Regions from separate parts of the Homo sapiens genome. Here all the other regions are linked to region 3. The links come from fine-mapping of genetic effects on gene expression. A gene starts in region 3. Each other region holds a variant in brackets. All regions are shown on one strand. Distances are between the middles of the regions. Region 1 overlaps DSCAML1 (DS cell adhesion molecule like 1). Region 2 overlaps DSCAML1 (DS cell adhesion molecule like 1). Region 3 holds the start of DSCAML1 (DS cell adhesion molecule like 1).

Evidence for each region. PIP is the estimated chance that this variant, and not a neighbour inherited with it, causes the effect. A credible set is the group of variants that fine-mapping cannot tell apart.
Region 1: its variant is the best candidate, but not a certain one, in a credible set for the expression of DSCAML1 in thyroid (GTEx, PIP 0.88).
Region 2: its variant is the best candidate, but not a certain one, in a credible set for the expression of DSCAML1 in tibial nerve (GTEx, PIP 0.54).

What each region holds. Positions count from the first base shown.
Region 1 is chr11:117,435,119-117,440,749 of GRCh38, reverse strand. It overlaps DSCAML1 (DS cell adhesion molecule like 1), which reads left to right. Exons shown (of 33, transcript NM_020693.4): 22 at 814-931; 23 at 1,321-1,484; 24 at 1,767-1,865; 25 at 2,667-2,855; 26 at 3,341-3,628; 27 at 4,951-5,106. Among named protein-coding and RNA genes, the nearest start is that of CEP164, 110 kb to the right of the region's middle. RefSeq lists enhancers at 2,067-3,041, 5,326-5,375. The variant C/T (reference allele first, on the strand shown) is at 2,671.
Region 2 is chr11:117,484,156-117,489,786 of GRCh38, reverse strand. The region is part of intron 11 of DSCAML1 (DS cell adhesion molecule like 1); the gene reads left to right. Among named protein-coding and RNA genes, the nearest start is that of CEP164, 160 kb to the right of the region's middle. The variant G/A (reference allele first, on the strand shown) is at 3,100.
Region 3 is chr11:117,793,745-117,799,375 of GRCh38, reverse strand. DSCAML1 (DS cell adhesion molecule like 1) reads left to right here and starts at 2,160. Exons shown (of 33, transcript NM_020693.4): 1 at 2,160-2,342. The coding sequence starts at 2,297.

The DNA of each region.
Region 1 (5,631 bases), 360 kb after region 3:
GACAGGGTTCTGCCATGTTGGCCAGGCTGGTCTTGAACTTCTGACTTCAACCTCAGGTGATCCGCCTGCCACAGCCTCCCAAAGTGCTGGGATTACAGGCGTGAGCCACCAGGCCTGTCCAACACCACTTCTTATAACCCTCTGGTGGCGGCTTTCTAAGAGGGAGTCCAGTCTCCTGGCCCTGCCAACAAAGCCCCCAAGATTCTACTTCTGCCCGTCCCCTTGGACTCAAGCTTTGGTTACCCCAGAGTATTTGCAAACCCTCACAGCTGCCGTGAGCTTCAGGTCTCCATGTCTGTGCTTAGTGCTATTCCCTCTTCTTGACATGTGTCTCCTTCCCTGCTTATAAAGTCTTTCTTAACCTTCAAGTCAGAGCTTCCAATTCCAGATGCTATTCCCGGCCGTTGCCTCCACTGCCCACTTATGGGCAGCATTCATTCCCCCTGCCTCGCACCCCTAGGCTTCCTCGTGCCTGCACCTACCATAGCATTTTGCCCCGTTATAATTTTTCCTTAAGTATCTGTCTCCCTCTTGGATGGTGATCAACGTGAGGACAGGGAATAAATCATACTCATTTTTTGAATCCTCAGAGCCTCTTGTGATCCTGACCATAACTGGTATTTCATCAATGTTTCTTGAGTCAATGTCTCCCAGCCAATATTCCCTGACACCTACCCCTCACCAAAAGCCCAAGGTGGAGGTCAGATCGGGGAGGGAGGATTTGAACTGTAAATCCAGGGGGCCCTAAGGAAGGAGGCCAGGATATTGTGCAGGGGTAGAAGTGGAGTGGCCCTCATCCTCTCCTCCCTGTAGCCCCAGCAAAGATCATCTCCTTTGGGGGCACCGTGACAACACCTTGGATGAAAGATGTTCGGCTGCCTTGCAATTCAGTGGGAGATCCAGCCCCTGCTGTGAAGTGGACCAAGGACAGGTGTGTGTCGGGACAGTGGAGGGATGGGGTGGCCCCAAAGAGGGATATAGTAGAAGAGCGGTGTGGAGAAGAGTCTGGGGCCCTCCTGCCTGGTGACCCGGTTGCCTCCAGGCCTGCAGAGGCCCTGCAGGGTGTGCTGCTACTGCTCTCTCAAGCAGGCCTGGCCTCCTGGCTCCCCTCTTGGGAGCCAAGGACCTCCCTTCCCCGGATGGTTAAAGAGGCTGGGTTACCTCATACCCCCAGGGAGTGCTGAGCAAAGCCCCAAGAACCCGGCGTTCCCTGGCGAGCCTCCTTCCACCCCCAGCTCTCTTTGTCACACACCGGGGGGAGGGCCTCAGGAGGAAGGGGTGCTTGACATGACCCACCCGCCCCATCCTCGCCCCTGGCAGTGAAGACTCGGCCATTCCAGTGTCCATGGATGGGCACCGGCTCATCCACACCAATGGCACACTGCTGCTGCGTGCAGTGAAGGCTGAGGACTCTGGCTACTACACGTGCACGGCCACCAACACTGGTGGCTTTGACACCATCATCGTCAACCTTCTGGTGCAAGGTGAGGCTCTGTGAGGCAGGTGACCCCAGGTGGGGACAGGGATGGAGAAAGGGTAGGGATTCCATCATGCGAGAGGGTCATCGAATGGAAGAAGCCAAACCAAGGGAGAGACAGACCTCTGGAGAAACAGAGGTGCACATGGAAGGGGAGGCAGGAGAGCTGGGGAGTGGGAGTGGGAGTGAGGGTGTGGGAGAGCCAGCACCTTCCCGTCACGGGGGGACTCCCCACACCCCATCACAGGGTCCGCCCTTGTGCTAAGGGGTGGTGGCTTTCCCCTCACAGTTCCCCCGGACCAGCCCCGCCTCACTGTCTCCAAAACCTCAGCTTCGTCCATCACCCTGACCTGGATTCCAGGTGACAATGGGGGCAGCTCCATCCGAGGTGAGGAGGGGTCTGGATGCGGGGGAAGATAGGGGAAGGAATTCTGGGCCCGGGGCAGGGAAGGGGCTTCACCCACTTCTGCCATTTGTCTCCAAATGACAGAAACGATCTGGGGGCCAAGTGACCCACAAGGAAGTCACTCAAGTGCCAAGGGAACTGCAATGGCCCAGGCACCTGGGATTTAGTACGCCCGCCCCTCCAATGCCACTTGTGAGCTGTGTGACCCTGGAGTAGGCTGTTTCCCTCTCTGAGTCTGGGTTTCCCAATCTGTCGAAGTAGACAAATGGACTACTAGATCAGTGCTTTCCAAGTGTGGGCGTGCGTCTGCGTCACCAAGGGGCCTTGTAACAATGCAGTTCTGACTCAGCGCTCTGGGCTGGGGCTGAGGACCTGCCTTTCTAACACGCCCCAGGTGCTTCTGAGCCTGCTGCTCAGGGGGCCGTGTCTAGATCCTAGTGAAGATCTAGACAGGACCCCTTGTGAGCCTCACAACTCTGGTTTTCTCCCCTCCCGAACCTGCCGCTAACCCCTAACACTAGAACCAAAGTGACAGCGTCAGACCCGCCGGGGGCTGGACCCCAGGCCCTCACAGTGTTTTGTTGATTGGTTGGTTTAACATAGAGAGTTGACTGGGGCTGATCCTTCCAATTTTGCTTCTAAGGAGCATATGCCCGTTCCAATGACCAAAAGCCTGACTCTGCCCCCTGCCTGGAGCCCAGCCCCCTGTTGGGGTACCTGAGGCTGGGCTTCTGCTGCCTTGCCCTGCCCTGCCCCCACCTGAATCAGGCCTACCCTCCGCAGGCTT[C/T]GTGCTACAGTACTCGGTGGACAACAGCGAGGAGTGGAAGGATGTGTTCATCAGCTCCAGCGAGCGCTCCTTCAAGCTGGACAGCCTCAAGTGTGGCACGTGGTACAAGGTGAAGCTGGCAGCCAAGAACAGCGTGGGCTCTGGGCGCATCAGCGAGATCATCGAGGCCAAGACCCACGGGCGGGGTGAGGCCCAGGCCACTGGGGCAGGGAAGGAGCGATGGGCCCAGGGAGGGTGGGCTAGAGGGGCCAGGTATGGGGTGTAAGGTGGCTGGGGTGGGGAAGGAGGGGTCCAGGGATGCAGGGAGACTGAAGGGAGGAGCCTCAGCCTCCTTCCCGTCACCACAGTGTCCCGATGGATCCCATTAGGAAAAACTAGTTCCACTTCCCCACCGGGTGGCCGAAGGTGGCATTCCTTTGCCTCTTCCCAGCTCCCTTCCTCCTCTACTGAGGCCCCTCTCCAGGCCCTGCCCTTTTCTTCCCTCTCCTCCCTCCCCTCCTCTTCCTCCTCTGCGCCCTGGGGCTTCCCCACCCCATCTGTGCCAAACATGTATTCTCCTGGAGCCACTGCCATCCCAGCTGCCCCAGGGAAATCCTTTCCAGCCCAGCCCAGTCCAGTCCTGCCTCCCACCAAATCTCTCTAACCTCTCTCTCTCCCTCCGGCCTGCCAGAGCCCTCCTTCAGCAAAGACCAACACCTCTTCACCCACATCAACTCCACGCATGCTCGGCTTAACCTGCAGGGCTGGAACAATGGGGGCTGCCCTATCACAGCCATCGTTCTGGAGTACCGGCCCAAGGGGACCTGGGCCTGGCAGGGCCTCCGGGCCAACAGCTCCGGGGAGGTGTTTCTGACGGAACTGCGAGAGGCCACGTGGTACGAGCTGCGCATGAGGGCTTGCAACAGTGCGGGCTGCGGCAATGAAACAGCCCAGTTCGCCACCCTGGACTACGATGGCAGTGAGTCGCAAGGGTGGAAGGGATGGTACAGAGGCTGGAGCAGGGTGGTGCGAAGGAAGTGGGCAGAGTGGCAGATACATAAAGAGACAGACTAATAGAAAAACAGGCAGGAATGCAGGTGGGGGAAATGCTGGCCTGCAGGTGAAGGGGCTGACAAAGGGGACATCAGGTTTGTTGCAGCCAGGTAAGCGGGCAGATGCACCAATGGCCACTACAGATGGACAGACACATAGGTCAGTAATACCAAAGATGGAGAGTCTTTGAAGCTGCAGTCCTCAATCACTGTGCATTGTTTCAGGGAGGTGACAAGGGAGGTAGAGGTGTGGTTGAGGTCCTGACCTCTAAGAACTTTCTGCTGATATGGAATATTAGCCAGGAGGGGACAGCCTATGCTGCAGTCGCAAATACCAAAACCTGGTGGCTTAACCCTGTACTGATTTGTTTCTTGCTCTCTTGGAGTCCTGCGAGGGTTGAGTGGCCACCATCTTTTTGAACATGGAGACTCCAGGATCCACAGAAAAGGCATACTACCAGTTCCTAACTGCATCTGCCACATGGGGATACATACACACGTGCACACATACACACACATACACACACACACACATCCATTGAAGGGACATGGAAGGCTGAATTCATAGAAGCCCATTGTCACAAGTCTACCTATGTGTTAAGGAAACAGAATAAAAGCAGTATTAAAAGGGGATGGACTCAAGCAAGGAAGGCTTCATGAAGGAGGTGACTCTTAAGCAAAGCTCTGAAACAGGCAAGGGTCAGGGCTTGGCAGAGGGTTATGTCAGCAGGAGAACTTGCCATGCTTCCCCACAGGAGCCCCAGGTTAACAGATATGGCCCCCAGGAGGGGTGAGCAGGGAGAGAATGTAGGGTTTGTAGTGGTTTTTGTCTCCATCTGGGGAAGAGAACCCAGGGTCCACTGCCCAGACTTCTCCCTACCATGCTTCACCCTTTGTTCTCCCCACCCCAGCTGGATATCAGAATTTAAGCCCATCAATCCACTCTCTGGGAATGAGCACTGAACTTCAACAGGCGAGAGACTAACTCCAGGAGACTTTAGGCTAATTCTACAACAGTACCAGGACTTTGTTAATAAAATGCAATATTAAAACTACACAACTGTTCATGGCTGTCCTGATAGGACCAGAATTTGGGGAGCAGAGGGGAAGTCCAGGGTTCTGTGCCAGGAGGTGGAGGTCAGAGCCCAAGGGCAGCAAGAGAGGTCAGAGGACTGCCCCACCCATGAGATGTTCTGCACAGCACCTGGCTCATAAGGGACATCTAATTCTATTCTTTGCCCTCATTCAGGCACCATTCCACCCATCAAGTCTGCTCAAGGTGAAGGGGATGATGTGAAGAAGCTGTTCACCATCGGCTGCCCTGTCATCCTGGCCACACTGGGGGTGGCACTGCTCTTCATCGTACGCAAGAAGAGGAAGGAGAAACGGCTGAAGCGACTCCGAGGTGGGGGAGCTTCCTATGGGCCTTCCAGGAGGGGGTGTTGGCTCTCAGCCACATTGTCCCCCCCCTTCCCTGGCTCACAGCACCATCTGGATGATACAGAGTGCCTGTGTCCCCTTGAAGGAGGAGCAGCCACTCAGACTTTCTGAAACCTCCTTAGTTCAGAAGGTTTCGTTCACCACTTCCTCCTCTATGCCCCCAAGACTTTGTGCCTGCCCCAGTCAGGGCTAATATTTAGAGGTACACACTGGTAAAGCCATGTTGATTGTTAAATATTTAAACATTTCCATGTTGGTTGGTAAACAGATGTTGCTCCTTTCCACACTGGATGCTTCATCCCCTCTCACGGGATCCCTGCAACTTTCCTAGGACCCATTCACTAAAGAATAGACCTGCAGGTAGTCTCTAGGACAATGCTCAGTTCTAACTGGGCAGTTTCTGCACCATGTCAGGTGTTAAATATTTTGAATATTATCCCCTTTTTCCATTACCTGATGCCACAGTCTACTGTGAATGGGTCTGATTTAC
Region 2 (5,631 bases), 310 kb after region 3:
GGAGAGGCCTGCATGCAATGTGGGGTGTCAGGGAAGAGCCCTGGAAGTCATCAGGAAGCCTCCTTGGCCTCCACCAGAGTATGCCCCAATTTGGTCATCACAGTGCCAGGCACTGTAGCAGGTGCTGGGGACTGTAACTGAGGCTTGAATGAAATGGGCCGTCTTCACACCAGGGTCTTCACTCCCCCAGGGTCTCAGAGAGAAGACCCTACCCCACCTAAAGCTGCTGTATAGGAAGGAGCTGTGTATTGAGAAGGAGCTCACCCACACCACTGTGCCTAGCCCTAGCCCTTCCCTTCTCTCAAGTCCCCAGAAAGTCTCCCCTGCACCCGTTTGTAAAGAGAAATCAGATTTCCCTGGCTGTTAATTGAATTAGATTGCAGGAAAGCAGAGAAGTTGTATTTCATTAAAGCCTCCTGTGCCCTACAGAGCAGTGAGGTGCTTTTGTGGCTGTCATTAGCATTTGTCACGCAGGACCCAGCCCTGTGCATATACCCCACCCCGGCTCTCCCGCCTGCACCCCTAAAGCAGCAGTCCCCACTGCCTGCCCCAGGAGTACCTGCTGCAGCTGCCCCGCCGCAGAGGCCACAGCTTTTTGGTGACAGCCAAATTCCATTTCCAAAAGCCAGGGACTGTATGCAAGGGTGGCAGACAAACAGATGGCTAGAGGTGGCCAGCCCCCTTAGAGGTGGAAGAAACACTTTCTGGAAGCCTCAGTTTCCTCATTTGAAAAGTGGAGATGATAAGACTTGCTTTCGTGGTTGCTGTTGGGAGGAACCACTGAACAACAGGCCAAAAGGCAGAGGCATCCAGCTCAGGGCCTGCTTTGTCAGGGGAACCTGGGCATGCGGGAGGCCATGGAGCTTCGTCAAGAAATACACTGAGACACAGGCTTTGGAACCGGGGCATAATAACAGTGCCTACCTCAGATGAGTTCATTCATGCAAAGTACTTAGAATCCTGCCAGGACATGGTAAGCACCCAATAAAAGGGAACTATACAAGTGTGTGTGTGGAGAGAGCCTGTGCTTATGGACTACAGCAGTGTGGGGAGATGTGTGTTAAACAAGCACATCAGGGTATTGACATGCAATTGATCATTGCATCGGGTTATGTGTGTGTAATGCCGTCCATGGGTTTATGGTAAGGGTGTCAGAGCATAGGCTGTGAGGGTGACTGTGTTTGTGACTGTCTGTTGAGGTGTGTTTCTGACACTGCCCCTCTGTGTGTGGTGTGTGTGTGTGTGTCTGTGTCTGTGCATGTCAGGATTTGTACTCCTGGTGAGTGCATATGACCATCTCCCCAGGGAATTCGTGGTGGCCGCCTTCACCCAAAAAGCCCTGTGAGGTACAGCTGGTCTCCATATAGAGAGAGTTCAATCTTGTTTATTACTGCGACTCAATGAAGCAGAGAGATCTTGTAGTCCAGAGCAAGAAGTAAGGGGGAGGTGGAAGAAGGTGAAGGATCAATGGGGCAGGCACCTATGCCCTGAACTTCCCCCTATTAAGGGGCTGCCTTGTTAAGCCCAGCAGTACAGCAGCCAGGAGGGCCAAAGCTCCTATTTGTGGGCACAGGAGGACACCGTGGTCCTTGGAGGCTGGGTGCAGGGCCGGATGGAGGGGCACAGTGGCAGAGTTCTCTGTTCTGGTTAGTTGGCAGAAGAAGAGGGGAAGAGGATTCCCTGCCTCTTACTGAGGACAAGGGGCTGAAAGCGCCCATCTGCAAGGACACGAGTACTCTGATTCATAGAACCACTTCATCAGACAGTGAGCCACATTCCCAGACCGTCTTTCCCTCTCCTGAGACCCGGGCACCCCCAAGGGCCCAAAGACAAGGGGCCCAGATCCAGGCCTTAATTGACTCCTTTCTGTGAGGCCACAGGTTGTCTACTTCCAATGCAGGGAGCTTGCCACTTCCCACTGTGGCCCTTTCCCCAAACAGCAGAAAATACTAGAACATTCCTTCTTAGGCCAAGTAGGAGGTCTTCCCTTCCCCCCTTGCAGTGTCTCTCCCTTGCTCCCTGGGTTACTAATTCCCAGTTCTCAGCATGCTTTGAAATCGGCCCATCTTACTGGTCACACTCCAGCCTGTCAATGTCCTTCGTCAAATAGGGTCCCCAGAACAAGACCTGATATTTCTTGGTTAATGTTAGGAACAGATAACCTGAGCTTGTAATTATGAGTCCTAGAGAGCTGAGAAATCGCATTCCCAGTGATACCGGGCCGCCCACCCTTCACAGCATCGCTGTGTGTTCAGTACTGCCCTCTGCAACCCATCCTCTTTTAAGATGCTCTTCTGCTTACCAGCAACGTGACCTTGGGCAAATTGCTTCCTTGCATCACCTCAGTTTCTCCATTTGCCAAAGGAAGGGTCTGTGTCACTGATCTATACCAGTTCCATTCAGTAGAACCATAACGTGAGCCAAATAATATGTAATTTGAAATCCCCTCTCTGTCACATGTTCAAAAAAATAAAAAACAGGTGAGATTAATTATAATAGTATATTCTATTTAACTCCATACATCTAAAATATTAACAGATAGTCAATATAAAACTTAATGACAGCCAGGTGCAGTGGCTCACACCTGTAATCCCAGCACTTTGGGAGGCTGAGGCGGGTGGATCACCTGAGATCAGGAGTTCAAGACCAGCCTGACCAATATGGTGAAACCCCGTCTCTACTAAAAATGCAAAAATTAGCCAGGCGTAGTGGTACGCGCTTGTAATCCCAGCTGCTTGTGAGACTGAGGCAGGAGAATCACTTGAATCCAGGAGGCGGAGGTTGCAGTGAGCCAAAATTGTACCACTGCACTCTAGCCTGGGCAACAAGAGCAAGACTCTGTCTCAAAAAAAAAAAAAAAAAAAAAAAAAAAAAAGGTATTTTACATTCTTTTTTTTTTTCTTCCTACATTTTTGAAATCCACTATGTATTTTATACTTATCACACATCCCAATTTGGGCTGGCTGTATTTCAAGTGCCCATTAGCCCCATGTGGCCAGCAGCTGCTACAAATTCAGTAGAACAGGTCTTCATCTGGGCTCTGCAATGCTAGGATGCTAGGATTCTGTGGAATCACCTGGCAAGTAACACCTGAAGCCA[G/A]TAACTTGTACACGTGTATTTTCTGAACTTGTAGGAGTAACAGACATGGGTCTTATACAGTCTTGCACTTCCCAGATTAACTTTTAGGGGCAAGGCCTGGAAGGAAGCTGGCAGTATTCCCATGGAAGGATATACATCCATCTTACTGCACCAGGTCTCTGCTTTCCTTCTTGCCTGAGACATGCGCCTTTCACATCCACCATTTTCACATCCACCATTTTCACATCCGCTACTTTCATATCTGCCACTTTCACATCCGCCATTTTCACATCCGCCACTTTCCCATCCGCCACTTTCACATCCGCCATTTTCACATCAGCCACTTTCACATCCGCCATTATCACATCCGCCATTTTCACATCCGCTACTTTCACATCCACTACTTTCACATCTGCCATTTTCACATCCGCCACTTTCCCATCCACCACTTTCCCATCCGCCACTTTCCCATCCGCCACTTTCCCATCCGCCATTTTGGGAGTTCAGCAGACCCAGTTTAGCTAATTGGCTGATTGCATTCACTTGCGCTGGCGAGGATGGAAAAGAAAATGACTTCTGACCTAGTTTTTTCTTTGAGCCTTTTCCATGGAGTCTGGTAATGCATGTCAAGCCACACACCCTTTTCCCTGCCACTTGTACATGTGAGGTAGTCCTTATTACCTGGCACCCAGTTGTTTTGAATTCAGGGGCTAATTATACCAGCCCAGTGGGGTTCTGGTTATCAAGCTAGGACCGGCCAGCGCTGGCTGACACCAGTAGGTGTAGCCTATGACACAAGGAACCATTGGCCAGGCCAAGAAGAGCCACTTTTGACACTTCAATGGAGGTTGACTCTGGCCAGGTCCTCTTTTGCCTAGGACCACATTCTCTGACATTTGCTTTCAGTACCACAGTCTGTCTTCAGGCCACAGACCTAGGCTTTTTTCCTCTACCCAAAAAGACCCTTGTCCTGACACACAAAATGAAAGGCAATAATCTATGTTGCACGTCACACGTTTCTATAAAAAAGAGCTCCTGTCTTGATGGAACCCCTTGGGGATAGGACTAGAATCCAGGTTTCTTAAGCAAGTGCTGTGTGGCAGGCAGTTTACATATGTGGGTTCACTTTGTCCTCACAATGCTCCGTGGGGCTCACAGAAGTTAGCTTTAAGGGGTGGAAGGCCACATAGCTCGCAGCCACAGAAGCAGATCCCAGGCTGGCCTGGCCCCAAGCCCCTCAAGCTTCTCTCCTCTTCCTCATGAACGGGCTCCCCTGAACTAGCCCTGAGCTAGGGGACTGTAAGAGTTGTGGTGTGTGATGCTCATTGCCATCCTAAGCTGGTGGAAGGGTGAAGGGACCCTGTCTCAGGCTCCAGGTATGGTTGTTACCACACACAGAAGGGCTGAGGGGCCAAGGATCCCTGGGGACCCTGCTGTCCCTGGCTGCCCACAGGGCTGAACAAAGCTGACTAGAAAGGCAGGTTCCCTGAAGTGGGAATGGCATGTATGGATACACAGGTTGTGCACTGCTCAAAAGTACATAGCCTCAGGGGTGAATGGGGTCTGAAACATGGTCCCTGCTTCATTGGCCAAGCTGTGGCTCCCGGCACCAGGCAGCACCCAGCCAGAGGCATGGTGGGGTTGCCTTTGTAATTCACACACAGGTCCTGGAAGGGTTAGTGCAGGCCTGCCTGGAGAACAGAACAGAGGTGTGCTGCAGAACTGTGAAGTCCTCCTACCAAAGAAAGACCCTCCCAGCCCCACTTACACACACACACACACACACACACACACACACACACACACACACACACACACACACTGTTCCTCTGCTTCTCTGTGGCTTCAGCAGCAACCTCTCAGGAACAGGATTCCTCCCCAGGAAGGAGGCCTCAGGGCCCGACCCATGGGGGTCCCAGTCCCCAGTCCGCTTACGAGCCTCCCCGACACCCGAGCTCAATTCTCCAGTAAAAAATGGAGGCATCTGCAATGCAAGTCCTGACTTGTTGGTGTAAAATCTTACTCTATATTCCACCCAGGTTTATACGAGTGAATTATGCAAATCTTTGATGGAAAAATATTCCTCCGCACATCCTTGAGAGTGTAAAACCTTAGTCAATAATTCATACTCGGATGTCTCTGACTGCAGGCTTTTTCTTCATTATAACTTGCACCTCGTTATTTGTCTTTTGCATTTTATTGTATATCCTAGTGTAATGCCGTGCATTATAAAATTTATCTGCTTCATTATTTGATGAGCTGGGGCTGGGGAATGTGCTGAGAGGCTGGTGCGGGGGCCTGGAGGCCAGGGCTGTCGTCAGCATCAAGTCCTGCATGACAAGGCAGCAGAGGAGGTGGCTTGCTGTGTGGTGTGACTTCGGGGAGCCTGAAACCTCCCTTCATCCACCCTACTCCTGTCCCAGACGCCTCCTCACCCACGGACTGGTGTCAGATGGCACCGTGGCAGCTCTGTGGCTCCCCTCATTTCTTCAAAGGCTTATTTGTCCATAAAAGTCAGACGTCCCTGGAGAGTTTGCTGGGAACAACTTTGCC
Region 3 (5,631 bases):
GTGAGGCACGGAGCAGCTGTGCCGCTACCCCAGGCCCACTCAGATCCCCTCCCAGCAGACAGCAGCCCCTTTCATCCTGTCTGCCTTAGCGGTTTATTTTAGGCATGACCTGACCAGGTGCTCTGGGTCAATAGGCTTAGTTTTAAATAACTGGATTCCTCTCAATGACCGTTCCCTTTAGAAGGGAGGGGGCATGGTAGAAGAATAAGCCAGCAGGCTGAGGGCGGTGAGAGATGGGAGCTAAGACAGAAGACTGGAAACGTGAGGGCTCTGTCACTCCCTGCGTGACCTCGGGGAAGGCTCATGGCTTCCCCACTCTGGGCCTCAGTTTCCTTATCTGTAAAGCAAAAGATCGGTCTGGGTCATCTCAAACACCCCCTGCAGTCTGTCCCCCCGTCTCTGTTCTATGCCTGTGTTTCCAGATGACAAAACACCTCCTGCAAATTGTTTCAGGGTGGTGATTTTGCATGAAGAGCTGAGCCACCGAGGGATGCTGCAGCTTATAGAGCAAGCTCTGCTCTGGAGTCGGGAGGCCTGGGTTCTAGTCTTGCTTCTGATACAACCTTGGTGGCCTTGAACAAGTTAAGCCCCGATTTTCTCACCCGTTTAAAGGACGAACCTTGAAAACATTATGCTGAGTGAAGTAAGCCAAGCACAAAAGGATACATACTTTATGATCTCACTTATGAGGTACCTAGAATAAGCAACTTCATAGAGACAAAGTAGAATAGTGGTTGCCAGGAGCTGGGGGAGGGGAGGGGAAGGGGGAGTTATTATTTAATGGGTGCAGGATTCTGTTTGGGATGATGAAAAAGTTTTGGAAATGGTAAGTGATGATGGTTGCACATCGTGAATGTATTTAATGCCACAGAATAGTACACTTCAAATGGTTGAAATGGTAAATTTTATGTTATGTACATTTTAACATATTAAAAAACACACTTTTCAAAATTTAGTTAAAATTTCTAGGGATATTTTGGCAAAACCTGGGAGTGAGGAGTCCCAATTCTCCCATGTGAACTTAGGCCGCACATTTCGAGGAAGTAAATTTTCTTCCTCTGGCAAATGCAGCTAGCCAGTGGACCCCTTCTCTCCCTCCAAACTTCGCACTCCACACCTTAGAGTCTGCCCAGGTACAGCCCAATTGTCAGGGCATACTCAAAGCAGCTTCCATGACCCTGCAAAGGGAGCTACAGTCCTGGCTCATAGGCCATTCTCAGGGATACCTGGATCCCTTCTCTGGGTTCTATGTATCCTCTTATTTTGGAATTAAGACGAAAGGAGGGCTTTCCAACCATATTGACCTTTTACAGCAGACCTGGCTCAGCCATGCCTGAGTCCCCAGTGCCTGAGCCAGTGCCTGACACAGCAGGTGCTCAACATTCATTTGGTCACTGAGAAGACGCCCTCACTCCAGTCCTATTCTATGCCAACTTCATAAAGATGAGTGTAAGGAATAAGCCAATTTCTGTCAGGCAGGAAAGCTATAGGGGTGGGTAGGTGAAGACAAAGGAGGAAGATAACACAGGTAGCGTAGACATTAAACTGCTCATTGTGAATAACCGTTTAAATAGTCACAATGTGCCAAGTGCTGAGGAAAATTCGAACAGCGTGCCAGGGGGTGGCTGGACTCATCTGGGGTTCTCCGGAGGGCAGGCTTGCGGAAGTCACGAGGGGTTGGAAGGGCAGCTATGAACTTTGGGGTGGGGAGTAGCACCAGACAGCACTGAAAAGCCTGGGATTCTACCCAGAGCGTCCATGCTCCTCCTGGGGAGGGTGGGGGGGCCGGGTAAGCTGAGTCCGAAAGAGGCAGGAAGCTCGTGTCCCAGGTGACTTAGGCCAGTAGAAACCGGGCGTCCTTGGCTGAAGCATGGCAGGCTGTTGGCACATGGATGACACATGCCTGTCTGCGACCACAGGCTCCAAGCCGGTGGGTGACAGGGACCCCTCGCCTCTCAGACAGCGGAGCCGGGTCGGGGCGGTCTGGCCCGGGCCGCCGCTCCTGTTCCTGGGCTTGTGGGGCTGGGGTCCGTCTGGGCTCCGGGCTCGCGCGGCGCTCACCACCCGGGGTGCCGCGGGGGGGCGGGGAGAGCGGCCGCCTAGCCCAGCCCCGCGGATGACAGGAGCCGGGGAGCCGAGGAGGGAGGAGCCGCCGCCGCAGCCGAGCGCTGGGCTGAGGAGCAGAGAGAGCGGGGCGCCGAGTGCGGGCGGCTGGGAGCGCGCTGAGCGGGGGAGAGGCGCTGCCGCACGGCCGGCCACAGGACCACCTCCCCGGAGAATAGGGCCTCTTTATGGCATGTGGCTGGTAACTTTCCTCCTGCTCCTGGACTCTTTACACAAAGGTGAGACCTGCGCGGGCGGCTGGGCGGCGGAGGCGGCGGGGCCAGGGTGGCGCGGCTGGCGGCGAGGCGGGGTGCCCGGCGGGCTCCAGGTGCGTGGGGGAACCGACCGGGGTGCAAGGCCCCGGGTGGGGCGCAGCGGGGAGGGGCAGGCACCCTGACAGGGGCCGAGTGAGAGTCAGCCCCCGACCGCTCCGCCAGCCACCCGCGTCTGCCGTTTTGGGGCGCGCCCGTAGGGGTGGTGGCAAAGGAGCCCCTCATCTCCCTGCTCCCTGCACGGCGGCAGTTCTGCCCTGGACCCCTCCCCCAGCCCCTTGCCCTCTTCCTGCGGCTTGGTGGCACTGGGACCCCGGAGTGCCCTCCGAGTCGAGGGGTCCTCAGGCCGTGACTCTTGACCTAGGAGTCCTTGCTTATTCAGGCCTCGGACTCGGCGGCTGATTCCTCCGCTATGTCCGTGCGTCCCTCTCCCGCCGCGGACCCCAGCCCTGGCGCGAATGTTGGCGCACCGCATGGCGCTTATCCGCGCATTGGCTGGAGGCAGGGTGGGGATAGTGAGAGTCCCGAGAGCTGGAGGTCCCTCGGATAGCAAGTTTGTTCTCCAAACCCAGAGGTCACCCTCCCCCGGCCCTACCCCACCCCTCTGCCCCGGCTTTAGCCCCGGCTTGGTGCGCCACCGTGGCCACCTCGGGCAGCGCGCCCCAAGATGCGAGATTCTCCGCTTCCGCGCCTGGCCAGTTGGACCTGGGGACAAGTCTTCAGGCTGGGGGGCGTGTCCCTCTTCCCGGAGAGAGGGGGTTGCTAGGGGTGGGTCCAGGTGTCCGGCATGTCCAGACCTGCGGCTGGGGCGCTGCGTACCTGATCCGCGAGGCAGCCGGGATCGGGAGGTTGGAAGAGGGCAGACATTTCCGACTGAAGCCACCTGGGCACTGAGTCGGGACCAGGCAGGCGCAGGTAGTCTGGGTTCCAGGCTATCGCAGAGGACGTGCCCCCGGGCGCGCAGATGGCGGGAGATGAGGCGGCCGAACTCCGCGCCCTTGCGTGGTGGAGCACACACGCTCCAACAAGCTCAGCGTCACCTGTTCAGCCCTCTAACTTTTCTCCTTCTCGCCCCGGGGCGGCTTCTCTCTCCCTTTGCCCTGGCTGTTGCCCTGGCCGGGCGGCAACTCTTAACCCCAAGACGATGAGGAAGGGCACTCCAGTGGAGGGTTGCCACCCGGGGAGGGGTCCAACCCTGCCCTGCCGGTGCTCCAGGGGTCTGGAGTCTGCAGCCTGCCGGAGCCCACTGCGATACATCGTGGGTTGGGGGAAAGAGGATAACCCTTATTTGTAGATACTGCCGGGTCAAAGCCAGACTCAAGGCCCAGATACTGCTGGCATTTACTAGGCGATCGGATTGCGGGACAAGGAAGGGTGGCCTCAAAAATCGTCGACAAAGTAGTTGAGTTTCTCAGGCCCAGTGGGGTCCCCCGGGTTACACACCAAGGCTGGTCTCTGCTGTTTAACCCCTTGCCCCCCGCATCGCACTCCTTCATCCTACCTTAGCAGAGCAAGAAGCCTGCCTCCTGTTCAAGCCCCACCCCCGAACCCCAGTCTCCCTCTCCCCAGGTTCTTCCTGCCTCCCTCCGCCCCCGCAGGCTGGCTCGGCTCGCAGCTTTAATTACATTAATATTAAAAATACATAAGGTGAGGAGCGGCTTTCTCTCTCGATAGTTCTCTCTCCAACCCCCATCCCCTTTCGCAATTTGTCAGGCGAGAAAGCACAGGCCGAAGCCGCTGCCACACTCTAGCCCGGCTTTGTCCCCAACTCCCCCATGCCTCCACAACACTCTCTGGAGACATCTTCCAGGACAGCCCATTCCCGGGGAGTGCAGGAGGCCCCTCAGCAAATACCTGAAGGACACTCCCCTCCCCCTTCCAGGAGCCTGGCATTAATAAATGAAGCCGAGCTATTTGATAGGGCGGGAGCAGATGGGGTTGGGGGTGGAGAAAGGCCCAGAAGGCAACAGGACAGCCAAGGGGCAAAATCTTGTCCAACTCGAGATGGAAGTTGCCAGTGGCCTTGGACCTGTAGGCGGGCTGGAGATGCCAGTTGTGGCGGCTCCTCGGTGGCCTTTGGGTCTGCAGAGCCCGGTGCCCCTGCGATTCAGAGGCTCCAGCGTCTGTCTGTTGGGCGCCAGGGTGCCTCGCCAGACAGGCTTTTCTTTTCCTTGGTGCCTTAATTGGGTCTTAGGTGCCAGGCTGGTCCCTGGGGCCTGTTCTGCTTGGGGTGGCGTGGTAGGGGGTGGCAGAGGCGGCTTGGGGGAAGATGTGATGCGGAGACAGCAAGAAAGATGGGGTTTGGAGTATTTTCTCTCCCGTTGCCAGTCACCCCCGCGGCACCAAGGAAAATGTAAATGTGAATGTTCGAGCCTGTTACAGAAAACAATATCCTCTTGCAATAATTTGTACGTCCATCTGTGAGGAGCGGGAGGAGGCAGGGAGAGAGAGAAGAAAACAGGATGAGATGGAGCATCCTTTGGATGGAATTAAGCAGTTATTGAATGTGTTTTAAGCTTCTGTTATTTCCATTCCTCTCAAAATACCTTTTTTTTATGATGCCTGAGCTCAGACTGATTCCCCAGAACTAAACTGGGAAGGTGTTTTAATCATCGGTTATCGAGTCTCCAATAACTGCCTTATTATTGCCAAAACAAATCCAGGTTTAGGCAGCCGGATGAACCCCGGCGAGGCGCTCTCCGTTGTTCCATCCAGCGTGCCAGCATCTGTGTTGCCTGCATTTGCATTTTTACTGTGTAAAAGAACAAGCTTCCCCGGCACTAAAATTCCTGTTTTCTAAAAGCCAAAATAATGGATTGCATTGATTTTTTCATTTCCCACCCCAACTTCTCCGATGGGGACTCATGGTTCTTCTCTCTTGGGAAGACCAAATTAAAAGCCTTCGTCAGGGCATTAAGAAAATCTCCAACATTCTGTTCAGTGTCTAATTAAAAAAAGGGGGGGGGGGCAATGGGGAAATGTGTTTTTAAAATCTTGAAATGGCAAACGCAACTTAGGGGAGGCAGGCGAAGGGCCAGTGAATACTGGGGAGGGGCTGAGTGGCAGAGAGACCCCGGTTGCTAGAATAACATGAGGGAGATTGGCAGGGCCATGATGCCCGACAAGCCTTTCCGACGCTTCGTTTTTCTGGGCATCAAAGCCAGCTGCCTTTAATATATTTCTGCAGTAGAATGGGGGAGCTAATTAGAAACAAAAAACAAGTAAGCAGTAGACCCAAAGGCGGCGCTTAAGTTGA